Linked DNA regions of Homo sapiens: regions 2 and 3 are each reported to be linked to region 1. The links are microRNA targets in miRTarBase. Many come from high-throughput screens and were not tested one by one. Region 1 holds a microRNA gene; each other region holds the end of a gene's coding sequence.

Region 1 (11,084 bases):
TCCTTCCTTCCTTCCTTCCTTCCTTTCTGCATCTGGCTGTGTTGGCCAGGTTGGTCTTGAACTCCTGGGCTCAAGCAGTCATTCCACCTAAGCCTCCTAAAGTCCTGGGATTGTAGGGGTGAGCCACCGAGCCCAACCTTTTTATTTTTATTTTTAGTTAATTGATTTAGTTTTGTACTTTATTGTTTCTAGAAGCTTTTTACAAACATGGTTTTATTTGACCCTTATAACAGTTTGGTTAGGAATAAGAACAGATTCACCAATGTGTCTAATTTATAGGTGGAAAACAGGCTCAGAAGCTCTTTAGAATATCATGAGAAGAAGGGATGTGGGGAATTATTCAATACAACTTCTGTATTTTGCACTTCAAGAAACTGAGTACCAGAGTTAAAAATCTGGACATTTGGTGGATGTTCTTAGATTTGTGTTAATGCAAGAGGGTTGGATTAGATGATCTCACAGGGTATGGGAATGGATGGTGTGTTCCCTGTATCTACTGTGTAGTGTAAAGTTAATTGATACTAGCTCAACATATTAGATTAAGTGGCATTTTAGCAAACATGAATGAAAGGCACCAAAGGTTTAAGGGGGAATTTAAAACATTAGGTAGCAGCTTGTAGAGGATATATTTAGGGTCATGATGTCCTTCTTGTTGGCCTTAAAAACACTTCCTGCGCCAGGTTCAAGGGTCAATTGGGAACAGGATCAACAGAGGATGAGGGTTTTTTTTTGTTTGTTTTTGTATCATTTTAAGACAAGGTCTCACTCTGTTGCTCAGGCTGGAGTGCGGTGGTACAATCCCAGCTCACTGCAGCCTCCGCCTCCCTGAGCTCAGATGATCCTTCCACCTCTGCCTCCTGGGTAGCTGGGACTGCAGGCACATGTCACCATGCCTGGCTAATTTTTGTATTTTTCGTAGAGATGGGGTTTTGCCATGTTGTCCAGGCTGGTCTTAAACTCCTGGGCTCAAGTGATCTGCCCACCTCAGCCACCGAAAGTGCTGGGATTATAGGTGTCAACCGCCACACCCAACCAAATGAGTTATAAGTTTGTGATCTGTTTTTAGCCTTTGTCCACAACTGTGGGAGTCACCATTCACTCTGTGACATAGGCTCTCAGAATGATGGCTCTCTTGACTGTGGCACTGATCATAGATTTAGAAGCTCCAGTATGGGAGGACCTTAAAAGTCTCCTATCCCAAATAGATTATTTTAAACTAACCCCAGTTCAAGTCCCTGGATAACATACCCAACAAATGGTCTTTTAACTTCTGAGTAAGTTTACTTGGTAACTGGGGACTCCTCCTTGAGTTAGCTTGTCCCTTCTTTTGAGACCTCTTTACAACATTGAGCCCCAAAATGTTTTTCTATAGCTTCAATTCATTCAGCATATTTGTATTGTACCACTACTCAAGAACATTGCTTTATTCTCACTCCTGCATATTCAGCATCTCTCCTCTCTGCTGTCATTTGAGCTGCCAGGCACTGTGCTGGGTAGTGGGGATATGGAGATGAATTAGACACCATCCCCGTCCTCAAGGAGTTCTCAGTCTAGTGAGAGAGATCAACATCTATGTACACATATAATTACAACAATATGGTATGCTCTACAATGGAGGTATGTATAAGATACTCTGGAGTTCAAAGAGAAATCATTTTACAGAGTCTGGAGATGACAGAGCTCAGAGTACCTGGTATATGAGTTGAGTCTTTAAAGAAGTAAAGTCACCTTTTGACTAGGTGAAAAACAGGGAAAGGCTTTCCAAGCAAAAGCATGGACATTGGAAGTAGTATGATGAGTTTGGGGAACTACAAATAGTTCTCTAAATTAGGTTGGAAATGTAGGCCAGGAATAGAACTTTATATGGTATGCCATGGGATTTGGATTTCATTATAAGTGTTTTCAGAAAGGGATGCTTTTAGATGATCACTGGCAGTAGTGTGGGGTGTGTTCAGGAATGTTTTCAAATCTGGACAGGGAGATGAGTTAGAAGGATACTGTGGTGGCTAAGATGAGAAATGATGTAGGGCTGAAAGGAGTGGGAGTGGCGAAGAGGGGATAACCTCTTAGGAAGTTATAAAAATTTAGTCATGCATTGCTTAGCAATGGGGATATGTTCTGAGAAGTGTATTGTTAGGCGATTTTGTCATGTGAACTTCATAGAGTATATTAACACAAACCTCTCTAAATGGTATAGCCTATTACACACCTAGGCTACAAACCTGTACAGCATATGACTGTACTGAATACTGTAGGCAATTATAACAGAATGGTAAGTATTTGTGTACCTAAACATATATAAACATAGAAAAGCTACAGTAAAAATATGATATGATTTTGTGGTGGGACAACTGTGGGACAACTGTCATATATGAGGTTCATCATTGTCCTAAACATTGTTAGGCAGCACATGACTGTATAGACATAATAGAACTTATAGGAAAAGTTATAGAAAAACTTATAGAAAAAGACCTTGATGAAAAATACTGTCATATTCTTTGGATGAATGTTGCAATTAACTCCTTTTAGATCATAACTTGACTGTACAGATTGTGCAAGATTGTTTTCTGGGAACAGCTGTATATGAAATGTTGATTCTCAGGGAGACACCTAGACACCTGAATTGCAGCAGACATTTTATGGTGTTGCTAAGTTGCTGGTCCTTCTCATCAGTAGCAGGCCTACTCTCACTGTCACATATCTCCCACGGTTTTTTTTTTTTTTTTTTTTTTTTTTTTTGTAATTAACCAAAAGTGAAGGCTTTTATATCAAAGACTCAATTGAGGAAGCAGTGGCCTTAGTCATTATTGGCATAATTGCTTTAGTTTGCTTATGGATCTTAAAACGTTTATGACTATATCTGCAAGTAAAAAAAAAATTCAATAATTAAAAACCTAAACATATCGAGTGTTTATTTTCTCTTTTTGCAAAGGTATATTCTAAACTCAATGTTCTTCGGGAAATTTTCCAATTAAGGCTCTGAGTATTGATATTTGGGATTTAGAGAATGGCTTTCTATGACCAGAATGGTTAGTGATGAGATTTTATGTAAGTAGGACTGGGTTTTTCAGGGGGCCTTGTGTAACTTGCCATCAAGAGTTGGGAAAGGAGGCCCTGAGCAGTGCAGCAGAGCTATGTAAAGTGAGAGTTTGGGTCTTGGGACCAGGTAGCCTGGGCTCAAATCTGCTCTCACACTTAGCAATGTGGTCTTGAGCATGATTCTTCACTTCCCCAGGACTCTGTTTTCTCTTATGTAAAATAGGAATAATATTTATTTTCAATGATGGGGGTAAAAAGTACTTAAAGGGACTAATTATGTAAATTGCTTAGAACAGGCCTGGAATATACAGCTAAATGCTGTGTCAACTGTTGTTGCTGATAATGGTGTTGACTATGACAAGTATTAAAAGAAGAGATTTGACTAGAGGTACTTATATTTTGAATGATCAGTGACGATGTTAGGGTTGAGAAAGAAAAACAGTAACTGACTTGAAGGTTTTCAATGGTATGTAAGTGTGAGGTCATTTCACCTTTTATTTCTCTGCCAGGTAGAGTGGGAAACCAAATTAATCACTCCATGATCTAGTGACTAATCTATTGCCTTTGCTTTTAGTTCCAAATAGAAAGCTGTTGAAAAGTTGTTGTATTACACCTGCATAAAGGTTATCCTGAAAACAGAAAAATGCATTAGACTTTGTCAAAACTGGATTTGAAACCTAATTCAACTGCTTGCTGGCTGTGTGACTTAAACTTGTTGAACTTCAGTTTCTTCCTCTAATATAACTATTAATTTTCAGAGTTTCCATGAAGATATTTGTAAAGTGTTTGTCATAGGCACTCTATACATTAATTACAGCTATTATTGTTAGATCTTGGGACACCCAGCACGTGACAAAAACAACAGCAGACCCTGGTGCCTGGGAGGACTTCATGGATCCAGCAGCAACCTGGAGTGGTGCTCCTCTGAAGAAATCCTACTCGGATGGATATAATACAACCTGCTAAGTGTCCTAGCACTTAGCAGGTTGTATTATCATTGTCCGTGTCTATGGCTCTCGTCTACCAGACTTTAAATTCCTTAAGGGCAAGGACAGTGCCTTACTCATCTTTGTATTCACAGTGCCTAATCCGGTGCACATTGTAGGCCTCATTAAATGTTTGTTGAATGAAAAAATGAATCATCAACAGACATTAATTGGGCGCCTGCTCTGTGATCTCCATGGGCTCAGCTTGTCCCCGCCAGTTGCCAACAACGTCCAAGCTCTCTTCAGAATGCTTACTCCTGAAGCTTATTCCTGTCTTCTAATTCTTTTGTTGAGGACTTTTCTGTGTAGTGCAATGATAGCAAATACACTTCATCTCAAGTACCATCTCCAATTGATTGATAATGCCTGCCCTGATTATGTTTTATAACAAGATTCTGAAACCAGGTCTTATCTCAGTGTGAAAGACATTTATAACTATTTAGTGATGTCTGCTGAGGGTCGGAGAAGGGGGAGTAGCAGCACAAGTGCCTCATATGTCATATTTGCTACTCTGTTTTCTATGAAATACTTCATTTCTATGCCTGCATTTTGGTCTTAGCTACTTGCTGATGTTGCATGGCTGTTGCTGCTACTGTAATTGCTGCTAATTGCTCCCTGGGTTGGACCAGAGTGCTCATTGTCTGAACAGAAACCTCATCCTCACAGTCTGAGGTTTGCTCCTGTGGCTGATATTTAAAGTTTTCCCCTTTCAACTTTACTCCAGCTATCCCCTTACCTGCACTGACAGGTAATCCTCCACCGTCCTGTTCACCTCTCACCAGGTTCATATTTTCTTTATCTTATTTATTGTACTTAATCATTATTTTGTGAGAAGCTTTTCTGATTGTAGATGTGACAACCAGAATACAAGTTAAAACCACTTATCCAGCGCCTTACAGTGAATCATTTAACATGAGAAAAAAATTGAGTGTGTTTGCAGACCATGGGGCAGAAGGAATTGAGAAGGGAGTCATTGTAGATGTGAGAAAGAGAGAGATGATAATAGATGGAAGATGATCTTGAAAGATGATGCAGGTGAAGCTGGAAGGGTGAAATTTATGGCTCTAGAACACATGCAGGTGGAGGGTTAGCCTTAGGTAAGTGGAACTACCTCTTTGCTGGAGCACAGAGATAGGGATAGGAGTAAGGAAGAGGACTTGGCAAGGGTGGTGAAGATTTGTAATTGTAGAGGTGGATGATGGGGAGGAAGCTGACCAGGAACAGGAATATGAAGACAAAAGCTGCTGGAACAGAAATACTAGAGGGCTAAATATGAACCAGAGTCCCTAAGGAATATTCAGGCCAAAACGCTGGAGTGAGACCATTAACAGGAGAGCTTATGGTATATCAAAGTAAGAAATGAGTTTGAAACTGGGTTAGAAGCTCAGGAAAATATGAAGTGGTTTTGGGGCATTGTCACTAGCAGTATTTGGTTGCCTTGATTGATTGAGGGGTGGACAGCTAGCAAGAGACGAGTTACACAGAAATGGATTTAAGAATCCAAACTAAGGCCGGGCGCGGTGGCCCACACCTGTAATCACAGCACTTTGGAAGGCCAAGGTGGGCAGGTCACCTGAGGTCAGGAGTTCGAGACCAGCCTGACCAACATGGTGAAACCCTGTCTCTACTAAAAATGCAAAAATTAGCCAGGTGTGGTGGCACATGCCTGTAATCCCAGCTACTCAGGAGGCTGAGGCAGGAGAATCACTTGAACCCAGGAGGCGGAGGTTGCAGTGAGCCGAGATCCCACCCACTGTACTCCAGCCTGGGTAACAGAGTGAGACTTCATTTAAAAAAAAAAATCCAACCTGGACATGGAAGGAAGTAAGGTCAGGAGTGGCCTCAGTCTGGGCCAAAAAGAGGCTTTAATGTGAACAAGGTGAGTGCTGAGTAATTGGAAAACTGGAGTGATAGGACCTGTAATCAGAGTAGACTTTGGAGTGTTAGATTTCAAAACTGGAGTGGTTAAGATACCTGTGAAGCTAGGATGTCAGATGATCATTTACATGACTATTATAGTAACCCAGGATTATAGTAGAAGCTAGGCTTAGAATGAACACTGGGCCAGGTACAAAAGGCTTCAGTGACTGTGAGGAATGACTTGGAGGTTGGCACATGTTAACTGCAAATACTAGAGAAGAAAGGCTGTAGTGGGATAGTAGATGAGCCTTAGAAGAGTGGGGGGATCCAGGTGATTCCTTCTTTTATTGAGTATTTGCTCTATGCCTGACACCTTGCTATATGCCATCTGTTCCCTCTTTTGGGTCTGTCACACTTCAGGAGTGGGAGAATGCGCAAGAATTCCTGGTGAGAACAGCTAGGGGAGCTGTTGGCCTTTAGCACTGCTGGAATCCTGTGGCCGTCTCCTAACTCTTTCAAAGAGCTGCAGGCTGGTCAGCTTGAAGTGGCATAAAAAGATTTATTTAGGATCTAAATTTTTCCTTGATCTTGACCTAAGTTAGTTACATGTTACAAGCATTTGTTGGCCATGTTCCATAATGTACTTTGGCTTCTGAGCCTCTGAGTTGAAGAGTGAGCTAGTGCTGCTCTTAAAAAACAACAACAAAAACAAAAAACCAGTCATAGTACACACATGTTGATTAACCGGAGCAAGACACAATCCTATTAATTCAGCTTTTTAGGATAAAGGGTAGACAAAAGAAAGCTCACATCAATAGGTGAGTAACAACTACTTTGTAAAAGCCACTCTAGGGTCAGAATACATCCAGTTTAGTGGTCCATATTGTAGAATTTCCCTGTGCTGTTAGGGAAGAGGGCTGGCAATTGAGGCACAGAGATGGCCTTAAGGACAAGGAAGGTAAAGCTTAGGAGAAGAGAGTCTATAAAACCTCTGACATGGCATGCAGACATTTTTCTTTTGAGTACATTTTACTGGGGAGAGGATCCATGTCTTTTATATTCTCCAAATGACTCAATATTCCAAAAGAAGTTTAAGAACTACTGTGTTAAAGTGATCAGGCCCTCAGACAACCCATCCCCTCTTGTAGGGGCTGCTTTGTATTTATTCCTCAGGAGGAGCTGGTAGAAGACTTAATGTGAGGGAGAAGAAAAGGAAAGAAGTAGCGGGGGATGACTACAACCTCTCTTCATCTCAGCTTCACAAAGCATCATTCAACAAATGGATCACTATTAAGATCCTCTCCAGATCACAGGTTGCTATTTTCAAATGCATGCTTAGATTTCTCTTTTCTCTTGTCGCATTTCAGAAGTTACTGTACTCACCGATATGTGTATATGAATAGTTACTTCCCATACAGCTCCCCATGTTTACGGGAAAAAAAATTCTTAAAACATGGTAGAGTACTTGCTCTGTTTGGCCTTCAATAATGTTGTGGATCCCCACTGCTGGAATATAGGCCACCAGAGATGGGTTTGGATTTCAGCAATAAATGACCCAGCTTCATAGAAGGAGAGTAGTCAGCTGATTTGAAAGTAAACCCAATCCTTGTGCTCATATTTGTTTACTTTTTCCTTAAGCCTTATAAGTAAGACATATCACTGATGAGATCAAACAAAAGCCATAACTTTCTCCTTCCACTGGCACTTTTCTTTCCCACGTATATGCCTTTGGGAGCCACCCTCTTCTTTCATTTGCACTTTCGTCCCATCACTTAAGACCCAGAGAGGCATGAATGCTAAGGTTGAGGTTGAATTTGTCATAGTTATGGCTGGAGTTGAAAAATACTCAAATTGATTACTCTGATGCCCACGCCTTACCTGATCTCATATCAGCCATTGGAGATGTAGTCAAGGCCAGCAACTCTGCGAACTCCAGCCCCAGGATTTATGCCTGATGTCTCAACTGATCATGAAATACTGGTAGGAGGGCTTTCCCCATCCCAGGTCCCCCTTCTGATTTGGTCATCAGATATGTCCTTGTTTTAGGACATACAGATATGAACAGAAACAATATCAGGAGTCCTGGTTAGTTTTTGTCTCTCGAGGATGGGCAGGATAGGTTATAAGGGAAGTGGAAATTCTTGTGTGTTTCAAATACATTCCTTCTTTGTGGCGGGGAGATGGAGTCTTGCTCTGTCGCCCAAGCTGGAGTGTAGTGGCGCCATCTTGTCATCTTGGCTCACTGCAACCTCTGCCTCCTGAGTTCAAGCAATTCTACTGCCTCAGTCTCTCAAGTAGCTGGGACTATAAGCACATGGCACCACACCCAGCTAATTTTTGTATTTTTAGTAGAGATGGGGTTTCACCATGTTGGCCAGGCTGGTCTTGAACTCCTGACCTCAAGTGATCTGCCTGCCTTCGGCCTCCCAAAGTGCTGGGATTACAGGCGTTAGCCACTGTGCCTGAGTCAAATACATTCCTAATGAATCCCCAGGAGACCTTTGCTCACATCTTCTGTCACCTTATCCTGGCTCTTGCCTCATTTTTCTTTTCTAGAGTCATCCTAGGGAATTTCTTGCCCTCACTGACCTTCCTCCATTTCTTTCCCCACCTTGATGAGTTTCAGTAGGTCTTTTTTGCTTTCTCTCGTCCTAAGCCATTTGTCTCTAACAAGTCCCCATCTGAAAGTTTTATTGTGAATGAGTGAATGAAACCTTAGAGAGTGTTGCGAGTTACATTCATGTTGCCCTTGGATATAAAAAGAGAGGCAGATGCATTTGCTTTTGGGGTCTTAGTCGTGAATCCTTTGCCTAGGCCAATGTCCAGAAAAGTTTTTCCTGGTTATACTGTAGAAATGTCATGGTTTCGGGTCTTAGATTTAAGTCATTGTTCTATTTTGAGTTGATTTTTGTATAAGGTAAGAGAGATGGATTCAGTTTCATTCTTCTACATGTGGGCTATCTACTTTTCCCAGCACCATTTATTAAGTAGGATGTTGTTTCCCCAGTTTATATTTTTGTGTGCTTAGTTAACGATCAGTTGGTTGTAAATAGTTGGCTGTATTTCTGGGTTCTCTATTCTGTTCCATTGGTCTATGTGTCTACTTTTATACCAGTACCACGGGTACACTAAAATCTCAGACTTCACCACTATACAATTCATCCATGTAACCAAAAACCACTTTTACCCCAAAAGTTACTGAAATAAGTATTTTTAAAGATTTTAAAAAATAGAGAGGAAAGAGGAGGCTATGAAATTCCATAATGGAGTTACAGATGCTTGACATAATTTAGTGGATATTGGATTTAGAAGCTTACATGAATGAGGCAAACCTGAGATCTGTGATATTTGTAAATGAAGATAGGAGTGAACTTACTGCCCTTAGGAGTGGAGGGAGGGAAGGAAGGGAGAAAATGAGAGATGCCATAAAATCTATTACTTCAATGGATTTGAAGTAATCCTTTGAAGCAGGCAGTGAGACTTACTTCATAAATCCATACCTTTTTAATGTGGATTGGAGAGAAGTTGTTGCGCTGTAATACCTCTGTTGCTACTGTGAGAGTCATTGCCAGCCACTATTCTCATGTCAAGCTGCCCTTGAGGAGGTTTCTCTTGACCCAATTTAGAAACAACCCAAAACAAGGTTTGTAACTTAGAGGAATTCTTTGATTCTGTGACAAGGGGTCTGTGACCCTCTTAAAGGGATCAAGTACACAGGAGATAGTACAAGTAGTACTAAATAGCCAGCTTAAAAAATTGGATAGGTGAGATGAGACAGGAACAGTGGACAGAATGGCTCTAGGCATCCCCAAACACCACATCTGGGATAAGGAAATAGTACAATGGAAAGTCTATCCTTGGACCTACTATTTGTCATTCCCCATGGCATGATGGAATATCTAAAATAAAAAGAGTTGCTTTGGAGAAGGATTGCAAAATATTATTTCATAGAAGAGATTTAGAAGAGGGGAAACTCCCAATTACATAAGGTGGGCATTATAGCTTCTCAAAACATTGGTTCCCTATATGGGTCATGAAGATTGATCCCAGTATCAGCCTATGGCTTACTAGGCCAGTTTAACTGAAAGATTTAATGAGCTTGGAAGGATGCTGCCACCTGCACTCTCACTTTGGCGGGTGTTTATCACCAGTGAGTGCGGTCCCTAAAGGAGCAAAAGGACAATAAGCACCCAGTGGACAACAGTGTGGCATTTTGAGTGAAGATAGCAACTGAAAAGGTCATCGGCTTGGCTAGATTGGGCTGGGCTTGTTTTTTAAAAATAAAAAAAAAGTTTTCCTTCATGATAAAAGTAACAGGTGATCATTGTTAAAAAATAAAGTATGAATTAAAAAGTAAATAATATGTATAATTTTATAAGCCAGAAAACTAATTTGTAATATTCAGGTGTATGTCCTTTCATTCTTTTTAAAAATTATGTATATAACACAGTTTTATAACAAAATTGACATCATATTGTATATATCATTTTATTATCTAATTTTTTCATTTGAAAATTCACAAGCATATTTCCATGTTATTGTTCTTTGAAAAATACAATATTAAGTGCTCCATAATATCTTATGGATTTAACAAAGTTTATTTAGATGATGTCATGTTATTGGACATTTTGATTATTACCAAGTTTGCGTATAAAATTTAAATGTAATGAACATCATTGTACATTAACCTTTATGCACATCTGGAATTATTTCTTTAGAATAAGGTTCCAGAATTAAAATTATTTAGTTTGGATGATGAGAGCATTTATTAGAGCATCTGACAGGTGATGCTGAATTTTCCTCAATACAGTTGTGCAAATTGCATTCCCACCAGTAGTGTATAAATGTGAATATCCCTCCATATATTCATCAAAACATGGCCTTTCTAATTTTGTAAATCTCTGCTAATTTAATAGGTAAAAATATACCTTTGTTGCTTTAAAATTTTTATTTCTAATTTACACACAGTAAAATTCACTCTTTTTAGTATATGGTTCTATGGGTTTTGACAAATGCACAGTCATGTATCTTCTACACTAGTACCATACAGAGAAGTTCTGTCACTTTAATAATTTCTCTTGGTGGCTCTTTTTGTATTCAACCCCTTACCCCATACTCAATCTCTGGAAACCATCAATTTATTCTTCATCCCTATGGTTTTGCCTTTTCCAGAAGGTCATATAAGTGGAATCAAGCAAT
Region 2 (11,084 bases), not on the chromosome of region 1:
TCTCTAACTGTACACAAAGAATTTTGGAGCAGAGGGAAAATACAGACTTTGGACTTTCTATGTTACAAGATTCAGGTGCCACTTTATGTCGTAACAGTGTATTGTGGCCTCATAGTCACAACCAGGCACAGAAAAAAGAAGAGACAATCTCTAGTCCAGAGGCTAATGTCCAGACCCAGCATCCACATTACAGCAGAGAGGAATGTAAGTAAAATGGGGAGAAAAGTAAAAGTTGGGTGGTTTGGGATTTTTGTACATTTGTATAGATGTGTAATGGGTCAAGAATTTTGCTGTGGAATCATAGATTTGGGAAACATTGTATTTAACAGGTTCACCTTAGCAAAAATGAGACATCTTAAAATTTTTCATTCACTGGGATTCTGTCTTCTAAGCATTGAAGTTAAGCAATTTCCATGTTTGTTTTGCCATTTAAAATGATTACACTAAATGGAATCAACAAACTGTGAATTGGAACATCTAGGACTCGTATAGTTTAGAAGTACAGCTTCATCTGTTGGCTAATACACATTGTCATGTTGCTGATCCCTGTAAGACTAATTGACTGGTGGTGGCATTTCAGAAGCAAAAATGTGACATTTTACTAAAGGCCAAAGGTAATGTGTGCACTTATTGTAAAGTTAGAAAGGGTGACTCATTCTCTCTACATCTATTTCTACAAAAATTTACAGAAGCTGAGGTGATTTTAATTGTCTTGAAATCATGTTTTCAGAGCCAGAAGGGACCTCTGCTATCTTGTTATACAACTTCTTGATTCTAAATGTGAATTATTTAAGATTCTACATCTAGACAGACAAATTTATTTTTCAAACTGCAGGTTATAAACTATCTAATGCTTAATCAAAATAAGCTTAATGGGTAGTGACTAACACTTTTTAAAAACTGAAACCGAATAGGAGATACCAGAATTCATTGGACCTACTACTATTTTTTGGTGAAACTTTTATTTCATTGGAGGGTGGTGATGTACTGGGAGTGATAAAAAATATGTTTCTGGCCAGGCACAGTGGCTCACACCTATAATCCCAGCACTTTGGGAGGCCAAGGTGGGAGGATCACTGGAGCCCAGGAGTTCAAGACCAGCCTAGACAACACAGGGAGACCCCATCTCTACAAAAAATAAAAAAATTAGGTGTGGTGGCACACGCCTATGATTCCAGCTCCTAGGGAGGCTGAGGTGGGAGGAATCACTTGAGCCCAGGAGGTTGAGGCAACAGTGAGCCATTGATCGCACCACTGCACTGCCACCTGGGTGACAAAGTGAGACCCTGTCTCAAAAAAGAATAAAAATAAAATTTTCTTACCATGGGTTGTGGTCAGGGTTTGAAAACTTCTACTCCACACTTACGAGCGTTAATGGTTGAATACTGGAGTACTGCTGAATGTTGTGTTGGCAGTTAAGTGCTGATTTTTAAAAATAGGATATTGTGTTGGTGATGTAAGCAGCATGTTTTCCTAGGTTGTTGTGGTAATAGTGAATACATTTTCATGTTTCAGTGAATTCGATGACTCTTGGTGAGGTAGAGCAACTGAATGCAAAGCTCCTACAGCAAATCCAGGGTAAGAATCACTGTCAGTACTTTTTTGTGTGTGACAAATTTTGACATAGAAAATCATCTATGATAGGACACCACTGGCTTTATCTACATTTAAATTTGGAAATGAGATATTCAAACCTGTTAGAGTTTCCAGAGCAAAAAGAATAAGAAAGAAACAACTTTCAACTGCAGAGGAAATACATTTTTCCTTTTTTTTTTTTTTTTGCGACAGAATCTTGCTTCATCACCCTAGCTGCAGTGCAGTGGTGATCCTCCCGAGTAGCTGGGACTTACTGTCATTACACCCAGCTAATTTTCTATTTTTTATAGGGAGGGGGTTTCATCATGTTGCCCAGGCTGATCTCGAGCTCCTGGGCTCAAACAGTCCTCCTGCCTCAGCCTCCCAAAGAGCTGGCATTACAGGTGTGAGCCACTGCGCCCAGCCACATTTTTCTTTTCTAAGTGAAAATGGAAACTACCACCTCTTACTAACATTTTATTGACTACCCACTATTGCACCAGGCACTATGTGGGAGTCCTCCCAAACAGTTCTTTAAGGCATGTGATATTAGTCTTTTTTGTTAAATTATAAACAATTTCAAACATATATAAAAGTAGTGAGACTAGTATAGTGAACCCTTTAAGCCATTTTCACCAGCTTCAACTGTTAGCAAAGGCATAATAATCAGTATCTCTACTTGCATCCATTCCCATTGCACTACCAGTAGCATGGATTATTTTCAAACAAATCCTAGCTAACACACTGTTTTTTGTCCATAAATAGTTTAGGATTTCCTCTAAAAGAGATAACTTTTTAAAAAACAGTCACAGTCTCATTATCACACCATTTAAAGTTAATAATTCCTTAACGTCATCAAGTATAATGCTAACACTAACAAGTAATGTTCAGATTCCGCAGTTGTCTCCTTTTCAATTTATTTCCTTTTAGATGAGAAAATTGTACTTCAGAGATGTTAAGTTGCTTACAGAGATCATGCATCCAATCAGTAGCAGATCAAGGATTTAAACTCCAAAGCTTAACCACACAGCCTCTCAGAATAATAAAAATAATCACAATAATAGTTGTAGTAGAAATTTATGAGTACTTTACAAATATGATCTCATTTAATTTTTACAGTAGCCTGGTGAAGTGCTTACTATCATTATTAATGTTACACAGAAAAGGAAATTGAAACCAAAAGTTGCTTGCCTGAGGCACGTAAGAGTAGGAACAAGGATTCAAAACTCTTAGTAGTCTGATTCCAAAGCCTCTTAGAGGGGGTTCCAGACCTGAATACTAACAGGCACTTCTTGTCCATAAATCACATTATGTACTAATTGAATCTGTTTATAGATTCTAATTGAGAAAAGTAGCTCAGCTACAGTAGCAACCACCATTTTTGCTGTGTATCTCTGTAGTCACTTGATGGAGAAGAGCCAAATTCCATTTGGCTATGTAAAGTATACAGATGCCTAGGATGATCAGAACTGATATGCTTTGTAGAGAACAGAACTGTTTCCTTGGTATCAAATCAGTTTCATTGTGACACTTTGCCCAATGCATAGATTTCAGTTAGAGTTCTTGAAATATAAATCATAGCACCGGCTTTCTGCATACTAAAAATGAAAGTTTTTAAATCTTTTACAGAAGTTTTTGAAGAGTTAACTCACCAAGTGCAAGAAAAAGATTCTTTGGCCTCACAGCTCCATGTCCGCCACGTTGCCATCGAACAGCTTCTGAAGAACTGTTCTAAGTTACCATGTCTGCAAGTAGGGCGAACAGGAATGAAGTCGCACCTACCCATAAACAACTGACCTAAACAGACTTACTTCGTATGCCCTGCCCTTTATTGGTCTCCCAGACATGCAAACTTTGAAGAAGTTTGAAGAAAGTTGTGGTCCGTTTTTTTATGGTCATTAAATTTGCCAAACATAAGGCAGTATTTAACATCTTTGTCAAATAAAGCAGATCATTATACTCTAGTCTTCTAGGGCTAATCATTTTGGCTCATTTGGGGACTCTTTTTTCCCAGAATTACTAAACAAATTTTATCACATGTGACTACTTAAATATACTGTTACAGTGTCATTTTATTAAACATTTTAATTCACCTGTCAAAACAACAGATTAACTCCTTAGTGTAAACTACTAGAGATAATTTTTAAGAGGGAAATGGAATTCATATCACCTCTTATTTATTATGAGCAATATTTTAATATAAAAATTTTATATGTGAAAATGCTATTTTAGGTACTTTGCCATTCTCTTTATAAATGTGTATTTGAGTGGTTCTGTATATTTATTTACATTATCATGTGTGAATATGTTCACCCATATTTCAGGTCACTGCATTTTATTCTCTTAATACAATGTTTTCACAACGGTTACCTTGCTTTCCAAAGATAAATATATTTTGGATTAGAAATCTGAGTTGTTTTAATTTCTAATACCTCTTGTAAAAGAAGAATTAATAACTTTTTAAAGCAGTATTCAGGTAAATACAATACATTATTTTGTTTTCTAACAAAAGCAGTTCTTAGTTCAGGAAGAAAAGACTAATCTGGCTTCTATGTCAATTTGTCTCCATAGAAATGAAAGCCTCCTCTTGCTTCTTTCATTATTAGCTTCACACCAGTGACTGTGATGCATTAGAATTTGGACAGAGTAAGTCAAGCCTCACTTCCAATTCAAATATAATGTCTATCTTCAAATTGAGTGTGCTGTGAAATTGTTCTGTCTTTGAAAAAAAAAAGTAAGATTATTTTGTGTGCCACTTTGGGTAAAGTTTCAAGAATACTTAAACTGTCCAAATTGTATTATCACCATCATTGAACTTAGTGCTCAAAGAAAGCATTGTGAGGTATTTTTCTAAACTTTAGACTCTATAGAGAAATATAGGATTGTTCTACAGAAGAAAAGCAAAACTCCTAATTAAAAAAAAATAAACCTATGTATTAAGAGAATGTTCTCGTAAGTTGCCTATGATGCTTCCAAAGAGTTTTTATCTAACAGATTGTGCCAAACAGCTAGATAAATTTTAATAATGTATTACAGTAAAGGCTATAACCAATGCAGAATTAAAATGGGCTCTAAATTCTGTTTTTAACTCATGTTTAGAATGTACTTATGAGGTAGATCCTTGCTTGAAAGTATCTGCTGAAAAGCCCAGTAACGTGGCAGCTTCATGCATAAAGATATAAATGACATTTGCCTTAAATTTGGCAGCCTACCCTGGCTTGGGTCAGATTTTGTTGTTGAACACAAGAAAGTATTTAAGCAAAGAAACACTTCAGTTTAATTGAAAACAACTTTTTGTAATGCTGACGTGTTAAATTGGCCTGAGGGTATTAATTGATATCTGTTGATTTTGTTTTTCTTTGAAGTATAACATTACTTTTTGGAGGGAATTTTTGAAAGATGCTTTCGATTTCTCTCAATTCTTTAAGTCATGCAAAATGAATTTAAAATCCAGGGAGTATGGATGCATTGCCTTAGTTTTGATGAGCTTTAAATTAAATGTGTGCAATATCAAAATATTCAAACTTACAAGCTGGGTAAATACATTTCCTGATTAATATCTTAGTGCTTAATTGTTCCCACATTTTCAAATTTGACTTTACTCTTTTTTGGCGTAATTCAGTAAGATTGTTACCAGCCAGTGTGTTTGCACACATTTGGGTTTGTGTTTAGATGAGTTAGGGACAGTCATAAAAGTTGGGGATATGTTGCATTTGATATCAATAGTAGCATATTTCCAGAATATGAGCCATAAGTTGCAGTCCTGAATACAACAGTGTTATCCAAAGAAAGGAGTTTTCTGACAAATATACATAGCTTTGCTAATGAGTACGGAACAAGTGGATGAACGTGTGCATGTGCTAAGGTCTTAAGTGGGACTCTGATTTATTCCATTTAGATATTTCTACTTAAGCTCTAAAAAGGAGAGGTGCTCTTAAAAAAAACTTTGTGGTGCTGGTACTCACACTACTTTATTTGGATGAGTTCCTAGTAAAAAAAACTTTTTGTTGAAGTATTTTGCACAGCAGTTTATCCAAATGTTTGGTAAACTTATAATTTAGTCCTATGTTAGTTTTCTTAATCAAATATGCAATTACTGTGTATGCAAATATAAGTATCAGGTACAGAGTTGAGTTCTAACAAGAGAACATGAAATATCACAAATATTGTTTTCCACACTTGGCTATTCTCTACAGTTGTTAGTAATTTTTGAGAATGTTTTGAAGCATATCTCATGTACTACTGTTTAAAAAGTGGCAAAACAGACTGCCAGTCATCCATTACTAAATTTTCAGAGCTTATATGATTAAGGGGAGTGAGATAAGACAAATCTTTTTCACGTTCAGTTTTATAATTTGACACGTTAAATTGAGTTTTAAAAATTAGAAAAGTGTTTTTGACCACACAGGTTGTTCTCTTTAAAGTTCAGCCTTATAATGAAGCTAAAAATCAATTATGTTTTACTTTGAGATTATCATCTTATCCTTTGATCCTCATATTAATATCTAAATTAGTCTTTTTTAAAAGGCATGCACTTGAGACTCCAGTAATAGATGATTCAGGCAGCAGAATAGTGTTTTGTTGTGTCGTTGACTATGCACAATGGTGGAGCAAAGACACATTCTTAGTTTTTCAAAACACATGTTCATTTTACCACAAAGTGCCCATTTTTATATACATTTAAGGATTATTTTTTCAATGTCAAGTTCATGTTAGTGATTTCAGAAATATAGTCAAAATATATAGTCAAATATATCTTGACAGGCATCTTGAGATTTGGTTTTTCATTTTACTATATTTATGACTGAAAATGGTTTTGTGTTTTCTTTATGTTGTTTATATATTTTTTACCTTAGTGTTTACACTGGTAAGGCTTGTTAGTCCATTTTTGTAGTTTTTTTAAAGTAAGCTTTTAGATCTATTTGTGTTTTAATGTTTCCCAGTTTGGGTTTTGTTTTGTTTTGGAAGAATCTGCTTTCATTATTAAATTATAAAATGTAAATGCTCTAAAGTAGGAATTTTTAAAGAGTAAATTATTTGTGTAGCTTATTAGGAGGTTCAGGTTAGTGACCATAAAGTGGGTTACTTGTACATGAAAATTTGAAATGGTACCATGTAAAATTCTTCTATTGTCAACTTTTTCTGATGTATGCCAGTTCATTTACTGACAAATGTTGTTACTAAGTGCTTATTAAGAAGTGTAATACGCTATAAAAAAGTTAATACTTTTTGTTCAGATGTAAGGCAAAGATAATTGATGCCGTTTCAGTGTATGATTGTATTTTTAACTTTTACGTTGGTGGGAGTAACTATTTGAGGAAATTTGTGGTGAGAATTAGTAAGAGATAAAACCCCCAACAGTTTATTCTTACCAAGTAAAGTTTTGTGGTCATGGGGCAGGGAAGAGTTTATTTACCAGAATACTAGAGCCCTCACACAAAATAAAGGTAACTTGGAGGAGGGCTATAATGCTTGCATCTCAGTATTTTCATTTCACTTCATCCTTTCATAATTGCCTTGATTATGGTGCAGTCTAACCTATTAAGCAACTTCTGGCTATGGTAACATTGATATGAACCATATTATATCAAGTCTCCAAAACATCTAGTTTGTTAACATACACTTTCCCTGTTCTTTTTAGTTTGAGTCCACATTACTAATACATTTTAATAATATTTAATTATTTCACAATTTTAAGTTTACCAAAGTAAACAAAAATTCATGAAGATGAGTATTGCCCTCTCCCAAAAAAGGTTTAAAGATTAGTTGAACTTCCCTCAACTACACCTAAAGCAAAGGGGAATTTTAGTAAGTGTGTGTACCTTGTTTCTTTCAGACGCATCTAGAATGTTTTTCTTTCACCGTACCTCCAAAAGAGGCAATTTAGAAAGTATTAAGTAGTGACTTTTGTTCAGTTCCATTTTGTGTGTGTGTGTGTGTGTGTGTGTGTGTGTGTGAACCTTGCTTTAAAACAGTAGCGTATACTATGGTCATTGAACTTAATCTCTCTGGTGTTAGAAATTTACTTTACAAAATTGTGTTAAGACTTTTGGAAAAAGAAAATGAAACTGCTGTGGTAAAAACCAAGTTTGTTTCAAAAAAGTAGGCAATTATTTGGCTGTTATATTTTCTTTGAAAACTGCAATAATTTATATATTTGTATTGCTCTGCTTGGGAACTGTATATATGCTTGTCTACTATTTTTAATTTTACAACAATAAAATAAGTATTTTGTTATCTGCTAGCTTGAGTGGATGCTTTGAAAAGTAGCTATATTTTTTTAAATAGTGGGTCTATATGGTTTTGCTTTGCAGGTTTAGGGAGTCTATAAATGATCTTATCTGACAATTTCTTGTAATAATCTTACCTTATCTCTGATACTTAATATTCTCTGTTTCCCAACAATACAGAAGCAGGAAATAAGTTGCCTGTGACTTACTAGATGTGTATGCAATTTTTTTTAATTGGGGTGTAATTTATATACAGTAAGCACAAACATTTTACTGTATTGTTTGAATTTTAACAAATGTATGCAACTGTAGAGCCATCACTCCCTTTGGTTCCCCTCACAGTCACTTCACTTTTTATTTCCCTTCCACTGATTGTTCTGATCCTTTTTTTTTTTGAGATGGAGTCTCACTCTGTTGTCCAGGCTGGAGTGCAGTGGCACGATTTCAACTCACTGCAACCTCCACCTCCAGGTTCAAGCGATTCTCCTGCCTCATCCTCCTGAGTAGCTAGGATTACAGGTGCACACCACCATGCCCGGCTAATTTTTGCATTTTTACTAGAGACGGGGTTTTGCCTTGTTGCCCAGGCTGGTCTTGAACTCCTGACCTCAGGTGATCTGCCCGCCTCAGCCTCCCAAAGTGCTCGGATTACAGGTGTGAGCCACTGCGCCTGGCCTGATTGTTCTGATCTTTATTACTGTACTTTGCATTTGCCTGCATTAAAAACTTTACATAAATGTAGTGATACAGCATATGCTCATTTGCTCCAGGCTTTTTTCATTCCACTGGATGTTCTTAAAATTCATCCATGTTAGCTCAAAGATCAGTAATAGTTCATAGTTCATTTCCTTTTTTTTTTCTTTTTTTGGCTGAGTACTGCTCCTTTGTATGAATATATCATAATTTAATTATTCACCTGTTGATGGACATTTGAGTTGTTTTTAGTTTGGGGCTTATATGAATATGAATATTTTTAAATCGGCTTTAAAAATATTAAAATAGGAATACAACAAAATATTCAAGGTCACTTTTAGTTAGCATTACGAATCTGAATATTACATTACCAGTTTTTTTTCCACAAATGATTTTTAAAGTCATTTATATGATGCTTTTATGGCAACAAGCAGTTTAAAACTAGGAAACAGATGATTTTACAAAAGCTCAGAGGCAAATTACAAAATAAGGACTGCTGGAGAATTGAAACATTTCGTGGGGTACTAGAAGAATCTGTCGTTTTTGAAAGTCTCTTCAAAGTCTAATAGTCATACTGCTTTGTTTTTCAGGAGAGGAAATGGAGACCAAGAGTCTGGTTTGGAAAGAGTACCAGACTACAAATGAAGTGCTCCTGTTTAGCTTTAACTAACTGACATTAAGAGAAACTAACTTTTCTAAGCCTGAATTTGTTAGGCTTTGCTCATGCTCAGTTTCCCAGCCTTCTTGGGAATTTTCAAACTATTTGTAAAATGGTTTGTTCTCCCCTAATTTTTAATGTATCATAGGACCAGAAATTCTTTGCAGGTGTCTTAGAGGCCGACAAGTCATACGTGGATGATGGATAGAATAGGAAGGGGAGCTGCAGGCAGAACAAGGCCTGTTTTATATATTGATACTCTAAATTCATAAAAACCTGTTCGAAAGGTTTTGCTTTTAGAATCTGATAAAAGTGATGCATTGGATCCTTGCAAGTTTATGTCTTTGGGTTTTATTTTCTATTTTTGATTTTGGTTTTGTGGTTTTCTGCTGTTCTTCCACGTCTGAATCCCTTTCTAGTGTTTGGATGGCACAAGTCACCACCTCTAGAAGCAAAAACTTCAACCTCCTGTGTATCTGAGGCACCTCGCCCTGACTGGTAAAGCAAAGAAACTGGATAGGAGAAGGCCTGTGTTGAGGGCATCAATGGCTAACTGTCAGCAGGGACAACAGCCATTATCCCATATCCAGTGAGTACAACAGGTAAGTTCCTGACATTGGTGTTTGAATAGCCATTGCCTTGTGTACATTAGACTGTGATCCTAGTAGTTGATTACATCACCTTTGTTCCTGCGTGGTTTCCCAGCCTTCTGGGTGATCTCTCCCCATTGAATAAATTCCTTTATAGCCTAAGTCAACTAGTTGCTTTCTCTAGCTTGCAACTCAGAACTCTTGTTAAACCTAACCTCTTCCACTGGGTCTATGTCCTGTGTTCTACTCTGAGATCTTATGAAATTCATTTCCAGAGGTGAACTGCTAAGAGCCAATGCATATCTAAACTAACCCTCAGCCACATGGGCTGCCTTTTGAGTCAACTGAATCTGCTGGGAAGATTCTGAAGAGAAATTAAACCTCTTGGTAATGCAGATGTCAGTTTTCCTGTTAAGAATGTGCTTTAGGATGGGCACGTTGGCGCATGCCTATAATCCCAGCACTTTGGGAGGCCAAGGCCGGTAGATTGCTTAAGTCCAGGAGTTCAAGACCAGCCTGAGCGATGTAGCAAGACTCTGTATGTACAAAAAATATAAAAATTAGCCTGGCATGATGGCATAGGCCTGTAGTCCTGGCTACTTGGTGGGGCAGAGACTGAGGTGGGAGGATTGCTTGAGCCCAGGAGGTCAACGCTGCAGTGAGCCGTGATTGTGCCACTGCAGTCTAGCCTGAGTGACAGAGCAAGACTTTGTCTCAAAAAAAAAAAAAAAAAAAAAAAGAGAAAAAGGAAACCACTGCTCCAAACCATAAACTGCCCCAGAATTTACTTCCCAAAAGATGTGGTAATGCTACTTTCCTGCTAAGAGACCTTTCTAGATTATCACTGCCTACAAAACAAAAGCCAGTCCCCACAGTTTAGCATTTAAAGCCTTCACCATTTGGCATCCACTTATTTTCCATTCTAAATCTTTCGTCAATTTTCAGATTTCGTTATGTTGCCAGAAACTCTGCCAAGCCCTGTAAGTCTTTGGGTCTAAGGGATATAAAAGCCAACAAGACTCTGTTGGTCAACTGGAAAGTATTCTGCCAAGAGATTGAAAGAATAAGGATTGAATAATGTTCATTGTATTTAGCAACCAGAAATTCATGGAGTACAGTTTTAATGGACCTGTGGGAGCAAAAGTAGATCACAACAGATTGTAATATGGATGCAACGTAGTACCATGATTTGAATGTGTTCCCTGAAGTTCATGTGTTGGAAACTTAATCCCAAAAGCAACAGCATCGAGAGGTGGAGTCTACTAAGAGGTGATTAAGTCATGAAGACTCTACCCTCACGGATGAATTAATGTTATGGACGGAGTGGGTTAGTTATCA
Region 3 (11,084 bases), not on the chromosome of region 1:
GATGTTATAGTTAGGGCTGGTATACAGCTCTTTTTTTTTTTTTTTAGACAGAGCTTTGCTCTTGTCGCCCAGGCTGGAGTGCAGTGGCACAATCTTGGCTCACTGCAGCCTCCACCTCCCAGGTTCAAGCAATTCTCCTGCCTCAGCTTCCCAAGTAGCTGGGATTACAGGCATGTGCCACCACGCCCAGCTATTTTGTATTTTTAGTAGAGATGGAGTTTCACCATGTTGGTCAGGCTGGTCTCGAACTCCTGACCTCAGGTGATTCACCCACCTTGGCCTCCCAAAGTGCTTGAATTACAGGTGTGAGCCACCGTGTCCGGCCTACAGCTCATTTTTTAAGGGATTCAGTGATGAATTAGTTTGTAATTAACATTACTAATCTTTGTTTTTCTTCACTGTTGTACAGATTTTAATGTTTGTATTTTGTTTTCAGAAAATAGAAATTTGCATTTTATACTCGTTTTCAAGGTGATTTTTGACAAAGCTTTTCCTTTTTATTAGGAAGGTGAAAGTATACAGCACAACTTCCTACAAAGTAGTCCACAGTTTTGATTATGCAGCTTCAATTTTGAGTCTTGCCCTTGCAGTAAGTACCTTTACCTATTTTTAAGTCTGTCACTAACCCTGCCTGTTAAATGAAACTAAAATGGAACTTTGGGCTTTATTTTTAGATTTGAGTAACTTTTCTTGCCACATCAGATATTTGAGTTAAGACAATTGCTGGAATATGTAACTCGTCCTATTGACTCAGCATGAATTCAGATTTAGGTCCCACTCACTGTAGAACTTCAAACTAAATACAGTGCTCTAGGCATTGTTAACATTAAACGCAGGACCTGGGAAGCTGGTAAATCTCTCTTCAACTCATTTAACTCAAGAGTATTATAGTACACTAGAAAGGCAGATTAGCTCTCTGAGCAGAAAAAAAGATGTGGGGAGAAGGGGACAACAAAATGAAATATCTCCTTTTCTTTGTTACTGCTCTTTCTGAAATGTATACTGTCAAGTTTTATGAGAAGCCACATTTGGGCAGGAAGGCATTTGACTATATTATATAGAAATCTGATTTGGGAGAGGAAAAGCTTATTAAAAATATTTTTGGGGGGCAAGATCATAAAAGTCTTGCTACTGTGTAATCTTTGATGCCGTTAACTATGTATTATACAAACTTTGCCAGTGATATTTTACAAGTATAAGTTCTGTCAATGTAGTTGTATCCTAAGGAAAAAATGATTTCGCTTTAACGTCTTGCACCAATCATCGTTAGGCAGACTATGTGTATTTGAATGGAACTGTTGGTGAATGTATGGACAAGCAGCAAACACATGGTAAATGTGTTTTGAAGTAAAAGTACTATAAATTACGAGTTAAGAATAGACTAACTTATTTTTCTAATTGTTATTAGCATGAAGATGAGACAATAGTTGTAGGAATGACCAATGGAATACTGAGTGTTAAACATCGGAAATCTGAAGCAAAGAAGGAATCACTTCCCAGAAGAAGAAGGCCTGCATATCGAACCTTTATTAAAGGAAAAAATTACATGAAGCAACGGGTATTTGTGCATTTCTCATATTTGTTTAAAGGGTGAAATTTGTTAGAGTAGCCAGCTTCATCCCTGCACATTACTGGAAAGCGTAGTTCACATGGCACTTTATTTTGCTTTTCTCTACATCAGAATTATTTCTAGATTGCTAGATTGGGGACATTATTGATGAGTAATGGGGAACAAGGACTACTTTATGTAATACTCTGCATCATAACATAATGTTATAATGCTTTACTGCATTCAAAATAATGTCTTTCACATACTACCTGATTTGATCTAAATCCCAAGAAGTAGTAGAACCAATCATGTCCCTGTTTGGCACCTGAGAAGACTGAGCGACAAATAATTTGTGATTGATTCAGGATTTCATTACTGGTATCCAGAGTTGTTGAGACTAGATCTCATTATCTCTGATTGTTGTTTGATTTCTCTTTCTACTGTACCACACTGCCTGCCACATAAAGAGAATTGAAATGAGTAATTTTTACCTAGAATTAAGGCAATGGTGCATGTTGTAAGTTAAAATTATAAGAGAGTAAGAACATGTTGATGTAGCAAGTTACTCCTTTTTTTTTTTCTTTTTTTGACTCTGATTAGCAGGATGCATTTTTATTTAATCTACATTATGGGCATATGAACATTATTTGTGACATAGTTCAGAGATACCACTTCATTATGAAAAAGTTTATATTAAATGTATATTTACACAGATGCTGATTTTCCTTCTCTATAAATGTACTTTTCATTGCAGGATGACATTTTGATTAACAGGCCAGCAAAGAAGCACCTAGAATTGTATGACAGGGATCTGAAACATTTTCGGATCTCTAAGGCACTCGATAGAGTTCTTGATGTGAGTGAGCATTTTTTAAAAAATCATGTTATTACTTACCCTGCATATTACCATGACTTGGAACTGTGAAGATAAATATTATTCAAACTTGATAATTTAGTGCAAGACAGTGATTTTTTTTGTGCTGTTTTGTCTACTCATGTTGACTTTGAAAATTTTTCTAGCCCACTTGTACAATAAAGACACCCGAGATTACGGTGTCCATCATAAAGGAGTTAAATCGAAGAGGAGTCCTTGCAAATGCGCTTGCAGGTCGGGATGAGAAGGAAATCAGTCATGTTCTTAATTTTTTGATAAGGTATGTTTTTTGTCTGTGAAACACTTACATTTTGCATCTGAAATCCTTTATCACCAAATAAAAGACATTTAGTTTGATCTTTGTAGAGAACTGATGAAACAAATCTGTTTTAAGGATTTTTTTTTTAAGTTTACAAGTTTCACTAAACTGAATTTTTACTTTGTAGGAATCTTTCTCAGCCAAGATTTGCCCCTGTTTTAATCAATGCTGCTGAAATAATTATTGGTAAGTCATTGTTAAAACTTGAAAATCCTAACATGCTTGCAAAAGTAGAGATGTCAAATAATCAAATTTGGAAATCAAGTAGATCAAAATATCTTGCTTTTATCAAATCTCAATATGGATTTTCATGGAGAAAACAACAAGTCAGTGCAGTTTAAAAAGTAGTAAAATGTTTATAGTGGTGTGACTTTGAATTGATGGGACTAGGGTTATTATAAAAAATTTTTTTCATAGACATCTATAATGACGATGACAATTTTTCAAATGGGAAAATGAAAATAAGTCAGGAACTCCACCCTATACTTTCTGTAATTATTATTTTTTGAAATTAATTTACTCAGAGGGATTGTTATACTTTCTATAAATCATTAATTAATTATAAAATAAGTACAGATTTTTCAGTGTTCTTATGTTTAATATTTTTATACTTTTAAAAACTTTTGCTTTTCACTTAATGTATGGAAAGATATTGCTAGTTAATGTGTTTTCTTTCTCTCTTTTTAGATATATATCTGCCTGTAATTGGTCAGTCCCCTGTAGTTGATAAAAAGTTTTTACTACTTCAAGGACTTGTAGAAAAAGAGATTGATTACCAAAGAGAATTGTTAGAAACCTTGGGGATGATGGATATGCTTTTTGCCACCATGAGAAGGAAGGAAGGCACTTCTGTGTTGGAACACACATCTGATGGATTTCCAGAGAATAAGAAGATAGAATCATAGTGTCTGCTAAATAAGACATATAAGAACTCTGAAGTTGGAATAGATTTGACTGTATTAAATGTTGGCGAGAGACTCTCTTTGATACATTAAAAAAACTGTTTGCAGAAGCAGTTCTGTGGAAGAGACTGGAATAATTATGGCCGGAAAACAAGTACCCGTTTTAAGTAAGACATGGTTTTCCATGTAATATTTTGAATTATAGCATCTTCACCTAGAAGATCTCAATTGTCTTAGTCACAGAGTAGGTTTATCTGGGATGGATATTAATTTTAATACAGGAGTGTTCTGTATCAACATTTGGGTTGGTATTCAGATGGGAATTCAAATATGAATCCTCTCTGGAGAGGGTCCAACTGGGAATCCTGCTAAAGGAGCAAAGCCTTGTATTACCTCTGGAAGACAACAAAAACAATTGGCAACAACAAAAAGCCTCTTTCTTGACTTTAATCAGTGCCTTTGGGATTTCTAGGCCCTTGCTTAGCTTGCTTCCTGTCTCCTTGATATCTACACTTGTCTTAGATCACATGCCCTGCTTCAGCTGGTAATGGGACTGCATCGGTTCCAAGTGTGGCAAGTAAGTTTTCGGCTCTGAAGAACTGACACTAGCTAGATTTGTATTCAGAGTGTGAGAGCAAGCTCTACAGATAGACCTTATTGGACTACTTTTTTTTTTTTCTTCATGCAGCCTTTCTACCAAGTTTTCACCTTGTTTCAGGTCAGAGGAATGATAGAATTTGTCATTTTTCTTACAACAGCCTTTCAGACTATTCTTCATATGTTTCAAGCTAATCTTGTAGCTAAGCTACCTAATCCTCTGAAAACTGTTTTCTCTGATTTGTATTTAGATTCCTCCCCCCATTATTCACAATCATATTGTATTTCGGAACCCCAATGCAGAGCAGTTTGCTTTGAAAAATAGTTGTTTTTAAAAGTTTAATGTAAATAATTATTTTTTAGAAGTTTTTTTTTTTTTTTTAAAGACAGGGTCTCGCTTTATCGCCCAGGCTGGAGTACAGTGATGCAATCTCAGTCCACTGCAACCTCTGCCCTCCCGGGTTTAAGCAGTTCTCCTGCCTCAGCCTCCTGAGTAGCTGGGATTACAGGTGTGCCCCACCACGCCTGGCTAATTTTTGTAGTTTTAGTAGAGACGGGGTTTCACCTTACCGGGCTGGTCTAAAACTCCTGACCTCAAGTGATCTACCTGCCTCTGCCTCCCGAAGTGCTTGGATTACAGGTGTGAGCCACTGTGTCCAGCCTGTAACTATTATTTTTTTATAAAGAGAGATTCTTATTTTCTTGGCTTTTTGATGTATCTGTTCCTGATAGATAATCATTGGCTAGTAACTCCTAGTACACTGGTTTCACAGTTGCTACCTCTCCTGCTTTTCTCTAATTATTACGCCAACTCAAGTAGTTAAAAATCAGTAAGAAAAATGTCTTGAGCTAGAAGAACCCATAGAGGAAGATTTTGTAATGCGAATCTCCTCTCATAATTTTAGTTCTGTAAATTCAGGGTTTTTTTTTGTTTTTTTGTTTTTTTTAAGCCGAAAAAATGCTTAATATGTTCCAGTAAGGGTATTAAGTAAAAATTAAATAAACGTATTAAGTTTAACATATTAAATTAATTTAACATTTAGACTAACATTAACATTTAAATTAATATGTTAAGTGAATATACTTAATATATTCTAGTACAGGTATGCTTGGAAATAGGGCGTTTCCTTTTCATGAATTGATTTCGTACAGCACAGTGGCTTATAAGGAACCAGCAGTGTTTTTCCCTGAGTAATTATGAACTTAGTCAAGATCAGAAGCTGGGTTTTGGGGTTGAGAAGAGTTCATTTATTTAAATAAAGTTTCTATTTAAAAACCTTTTTAAAAAGTTAACATCATAAATATTCTGATAATTTGCATAGTAGTAAAAATTAGAAGTTGAAATTCTACCTAAAGCTGTAGTTGCCGTCAATTGTGTAACATGTGACAAAGGTTTTCCCATATGTCATTTCATTTGATTCTCACCACAACCATCCAAGGTTGATGTTATTCTCATTTAACATTGAGTTAACGAAAGTAGTTGATTCACTCTCGAAGTCCCTGAGTGTGAGCTCTTCATCCTAGCACTGTGAAGTGGTTTGCCTGCTGGGGCCTAAACTCCTCATTCCCTTTAACAAAGCTTCACTGAGTGCTGCAGTTCTCAAAATATGTAACAGTTAACACATTTTTCAAACAGGTTAGGAAGCAATTCCCATAGCCATCAATACTTAAATTCAGGAGTACTTTTTTGTTTGTTTGTTTTGTTTTGTTTTTAGAGACAAGGTCTCTTTCTGTTGTCCAGGCTGGAGTGTAGTGGTGTGATCATAGCTCACTGCAGCTTCTGTCTCCTAGGCTGAAGCTATCCTCCCACCTCAGCCTCCTGAGAAGCTGGGGCTACAGGGATGAGCCACCATGCCCAGCTAATTTTTTATTTTGATTTTTTGAGATAAGAGGTCTCACCATGTTGCCCAGGCCTGAGGCAATCTCCTGGTTTCAAGCAATCTTCCCACCTCAGCCTCCTTAATGACTGGGATTAAAGGCATGAGCCACTGCGCCCAGCAGGAATGGTTATTATATTCATTGAGATAAACTGTAGTATTTGCTGTTTGAAGTATTTAAACATAATTGGCATATTACAATATGTGACACTGGCCTTAAGATTCTAATTTAAAATGCTTAACAGACTTTTAGACTTATGAGTTTCAGTTGAAAGGTATTTTAAAATGTTACTAAGTCTGCAAAAGTACTGAAATGTTTCAGAGAACTTGGAAAGTCACCGTATGTTTAATTTATTATGTTTATGAGATTTAAGCACTTGGGAAGGTTTATGCTAATGGGGTCAAGCATTTGCAATGCTGCTTAAAAGAATCATTTTTTTAAATGTATAAATGCTATTAAGTTGTTTAAAGGAATTTGAATTGTAAATGGGATTGTTAAAACAAATTTAGTCTGTTCAACTCAATGAGGGCATTTCATTTTCTAGGAACAAAATACCCTCTTAGACATTAAAAAGCCGCATGCCTGTTCCCTCAGCTATAGTTAACTGGACCATGGTGGTACAACTGACTCAACCCTTCTCTAAGCAGGGATTTGTAATTGGGATTTATAATGAAATTCCTGATCTGGGAAAATGGGAGGCTGGGAATGCTATGTCTAGGTCATCAGCGGAGAAAGTTGGTTTGTAGAGAATGAACAAGAATGAAACCTAAGTGCAAAGAAAATAAAGATTATCCTGCTTTAATAGTTCAGACTAGAGGAGAGAGAAACCATCTTAGTTCCTGATGACTTCCTATTGCCCTATTCTGGTTGTACCTCTTCCCCCAGGGGTCCATGATATTTTTGGATTCCCTCTAACACTTGTTTGCTTAGTTGACTGTGAGTGGTTTTCTCTTATTTACAACCAAATGACTCTGAAAACACTAATCCACTGGTCCTGATATTTATTGAGACACATTAGAGGCCAGGGTATCAAGGTTATAGCAATGAACAAAATAGACAAAATATCTCCCTCAATATTCTGATTAGGGGAGATACTCAGTGAACAAGTACATATGTAGTGGGGTCACGTGGTGCTAAATGAGATGGAGACCAATCAGGCAGGGGAGGGAGATGGCAAATGTCAGGGGTGATTGGTGGGTTGGAGTTTTAAATAGAGTAGTTAGGGAAGGCCTCACTGGGATGGCAATTGAGCAAAGTTCTTTAGGAAGTGAAGGATCCTCATTGCTATCTAGGGGCAGAGTGGAGAAGTGTGCCTGGGGAGTTAGGAATGGCAAGGTGGCCCATTTAGCTGGCATGGAGCAAGGGAGGGGAGAGTAGTAAGATACAGAATGGTGTAGAAACTGGCGATGGTGCATTTTGACAGCTCTTTAGGGAGTTTTAACGTAAAAGGGAATACAAAATTGGGCAATGACTGGAGGTATGTGGGGTCAAGAGTTTTTTTTAATTAGGTATAATTGATATGCTATAAACTACACATATTTAAGGTGTTCATTTGATATGTTTTGACATTTATACACCCTTGAAACCACAATCAAGTTAATGAACATGTTTAATACCCTCAAAAGTTTCCTCCTGCCCTTGGTAATCCATCCCTTGGCCCCTTCGCCTCAGGCAACTACTGAACTACTTCCTGTCACCATAGATTAGTGTTCATTTTCTAGAATTTTATAAAATGGAATTAGAATTTAGGATTTGGGGGGTCTGGCTTCTTTCACTTAGCATAATTGTTTTGAGATTTATAATTAATTTGAGATTTAAGTTGGCAACAATGACAGAATGAATGTGTGTCAGTGGGGATAATCCTGTAGAGAAGGAAAAACATGATATAGGATCCAGGGGAGGTGGCACTGCTGGAGCAGTGGCAAGGGTCAAGTGCCCAAGTGGAAGGGTTGGTTTAGATAGGAGAAGATAGGAGAATAATAATTTGGGCATAGTTCAGGAGGGAAGGCATATACGGGCACAGAGGCAATTAGGTGGGTAGAGGTGATAGTGAGGGTTTGTGGAAGTTAATTTGGTGTCTCTTCATTGGAAAAAACCCAAGAAGGTAACCAACTGAAATGAGGTTAGAGGAAGAGCAGGTGGAGGTGTTGGAAGTTTGATGAGATAACAAGATATGAATTAATCCTAATAAGGTCAAGAACTCAAACTTTGGAGCCATCTGCATAGATTTGAATCTTGGCTTGACCACTCACTGGCTACACGATCTGGGGGACGTTATTTTGACATTTTGTATCTCATTTTCTTCATCTGTTAATCAGACAAACAGAATCACATAGGATAGTTGTGAGAATTGTGCTAATACCCATAAATGTACCTAGAATATTTCTTCTAAAAAGTTGTTTTTAAAGAACAGTGTTGAGAAGGGAGAGTAGAACAAGGAATTCTATCTGTAACTGACTGAACAATCAATTGAGACAACACTACCTTCAATCCAGCCCCTAGAATATTTCTATTGTCAGCTAGTATGATGGGGGGAATGAATGGACTGGAAAATGAAGGAGGGTCCCTGGCAGCACTAGAGGCCCACATGACTAAGGAACTGAATGAGTGTTCTGGATTTACACTGAGACCCATCAGCATGGTGGCATGTTTTTCCCTTTACATTCACCTATTAGGAGGCAGATGTGGAACAGACTGAGATACGGATTTAACAAGCAGTGGGGTTTTTGTAGGTGAATGCAACATAACTGGGCAGGGACAAAGGTAGTGTTAAGATTGATGCAAAGGAGTGATTGTAATGATAGAGCGTGGAAGCTAAGCTGGGTAAGTATGGAAAGGAGGCCACATGGGATTGAGGACAGTGAGAACACCTGGATCAATGGATTGTTGGTCTGTGTGTGGTTGAAGAGTTGCGGTTTGCCTACTAGAGATAGCGAGCCAGAGGTATGAAAGATGTTGAGAGAACTAAGCATTATGACAACAGCAGTATTTGAAAGAGTGACAGCAAGCCAGGAGCTAAAAAGTTGAAAACATGATAGGTCTCATGATGTGTGGTGACCAACAAGGTGGGAGGTATTAGGGATATAGTCAGATGACATGAGATTCAGTGGTGAGGCATTCTTGGGAAGGAAGGTGGGAGAATGGTCTGGAAACAGCATTGAGGATTACCTATACAACTGTTAGGAGTTGTACAGGAGATATGAGAACACCATCAGCAGCACTGGAGAGGGCTGCAGAAGAAACAGTGTCCTCAGCAGAGAGCCAAGGCTCAGATCAAAGGCGTGGAGAGAATGTCAACACGAGGTTGAGAGTCTGAGGGTTGTTGCTGATGACTGTGAGACCCAGAGGGCAGAGGCAAAGGGTTTTATGAGCTAGAGAAGGATAGAAATGGGACCACAAGAGAGGATGTATGGAGTCTAGGAGATAAGGCATGATCTAGGGTTCCTGGCTTCTTGTGGCAATAACTGGCATAAAGAGGGTTAGAGGGCATGATGACAGCCCTGATCATCTTCAGGTAGATGCTGGGTGTGAGGGAGGGAGAGAAGTGAGCTCTCCCCAGGAGCTTGTAGAATTCTGGGCACCATTCTTCACACCTGCCACACAGGTGCTGTGGCGGGTGATAGAGGGGCAATCACTTCTACAGAAACAGGAAAACAGATTAAGTTCACTCCAGATACCCAGTTTGTAAGTGAAAAACAAACAACAACAACAACAAAACAGGATTTGGATTCACGTAGTCTGTTTTTACAACCTGCACCATTTATCATTGCTTGAGACAGCCTCATCCTCATTCTGCTCTCTCTCTTCCTCCCATATTCAAGCAGTTTTCAACATAACCCTCAGCTGCCACATCCTAGATGTCCTTTTGTTTTTCCATTCCCATCGCCATCTCTTTGTGGCCCCAATTCCTTTGGACTTCTGCAGCACCCTGCCTTACAGCTCCTCCAGCTTAGCAGTCCTCCAGTCCATCCTCCGTATCATGGCTAGAGTGGTCTTCAGAAACATTTGATCTCATCACTCCCTGGAGACAGTCTATCACAGTGTCAGGGGGAATTAAAAGGACATGGTGGCAACTGAATGGAAGTGATAATGTAGGAGGTGAAACGACCAAACCCTCCTTCCATCCTTCGCTTTAGCTCAGGCAGCTTCCACGTAGAAGGGTCTTTGGCTTGAAATACTTATGATGTTATCCTCGGTTGGAAATTTGGTTTTTTTGGAGATCTTGATTCTGATTCAGAGCCTGTCGCCACTTATTTTTTCAGTCGATGTTTATTCCTCAACTGTTTTTGCATCTGTTTACACAGTTCAAACATCCAGCCACTCTCCACTCTGACCTGAGAACATAGAGGCAGGGATTCCTGCTGGGTCATTGTGCTTTTGGTACAGAGTTAAAGTCTTGAGCAATTTCTCCTAATGGTTTTCTGTTGTTTTTGCTTTTGTTGTTGTTGTTTTTGAGACAGGGTCTTGCTCTATTGCCCAGGCTGGAATGCAGTGGTGCGATCATGGCTCATTGCAGTCTCAACCTCCCAGGCTTAAGCGATTCTCCCACCTCAGCCTTCCGAGTAGCTAAGACTACAGGCCCACGCCACCACTCCCAGCTAATTTTTTTTTTTTTTTTGGTAGAGACGAGGTCTCACTTTATTGCCCAGGCTGGTCTCCACTCCTGAGCTCAACTGACCCTCCCACCTTGGCCTTCCAAAGTGCTGGGATTACAGGCATGAGTCACCGTACCTGGCCCTACTAAGGGTTTTCTAGTGATCTTAAAATTAATTAAAATTAAGAATTCAGTTCCTTAGTCACTTTGCCACACTTTGAGATGGCTGAAAATAGCCACATGTGGCTTGTGGCTACCATATTGGACAACACAGATACAGAACATTTCCGTAATTGGAGAAGTTTCTACCAGACAGCCTTGGACCTTTGGAGAAGTGCAAACTCTTTCTTTCTGGAGACTTGAGTCCACTT

The links. Region 1 holds the annotated microRNA hsa-miR-374c-5p (AUAAUACAACCUGCUAAGUGCU, at 4,013-4,034, opposite strand). A microRNA usually pairs through its seed, bases 2 to 8, with sites in the 3' UTR of a target mRNA and lowers its output. Matches are read on the target gene's strand: a 7mer-m8 pairs with bases 2 to 8, a 7mer-A1 pairs with bases 2 to 7 and ends in A, and an 8mer does both.
Region 2: miRTarBase lists C21orf91 as a target of hsa-miR-374c-5p. Seed matches in the 3' UTR shown: 7mer-m8 at 4,370-4,376, 8mer at 4,508-4,515, 7mer-m8 at 4,602-4,608, 7mer-A1 at 4,902-4,908 and 7mer-A1 at 7,466-7,472.
Region 3: the mRNA of UTP15 is a reported target of hsa-miR-374c-5p. Seed matches in the 3' UTR shown: 8mer at 3,698-3,705, 7mer-m8 at 4,030-4,036, 7mer-A1 at 5,223-5,229 and 7mer-A1 at 5,247-5,253.

What each region holds. Positions count from the first base shown.
Region 1 is chrX:74,211,511-74,222,594 of GRCh38, reverse strand. MIR374C (microRNA 374c) reads right to left here and starts at 4,046; the gene lies at 3,977-4,046. All of the region lies in intron 5 of FTX (FTX transcript, XIST regulator), which reads left to right. MIR421 (microRNA 421) reads left to right here and starts at 4,134; the gene lies at 4,134-4,218. MIR374B (microRNA 374b) reads left to right here and starts at 3,977; the gene lies at 3,977-4,048. RefSeq lists an enhancer at 1-432.
Region 2 is chr21:17,785,702-17,796,785 of GRCh38, reverse strand. C21orf91 (chromosome 21 open reading frame 91) reads left to right here. Exons shown (of 5, transcript NM_001100420.2): 3 at 1-204; 4 at 1,516-1,578; 5 at 3,205-7,812. The coding sequence ends at 3,371. It overlaps C21orf91-OT1 (C21orf91 overlapping transcript 1), which reads left to right and starts at 4,277. Exons shown (of 4, transcript NR_038871.1): 1 at 4,277-4,309; 2 at 9,576-9,758. The region is part of intron 2 of LOC124900465 (a long non-coding RNA gene); the gene reads right to left. RefSeq lists an enhancer at 2,657-2,826.
Region 3 is chr5:73,576,448-73,587,531 of GRCh38, forward strand. UTP15 (UTP15 small subunit processome component) reads left to right here. Exons shown (of 13, transcript NM_032175.4): 8 at 505-589; 9 at 1,409-1,558; 10 at 2,304-2,405; 11 at 2,570-2,703; 12 at 2,870-2,928; 13 at 3,430-6,933. The coding sequence ends at 3,647. Among named protein-coding and RNA genes, the nearest start is that of UTP15, 16 kb to the left of the region's middle.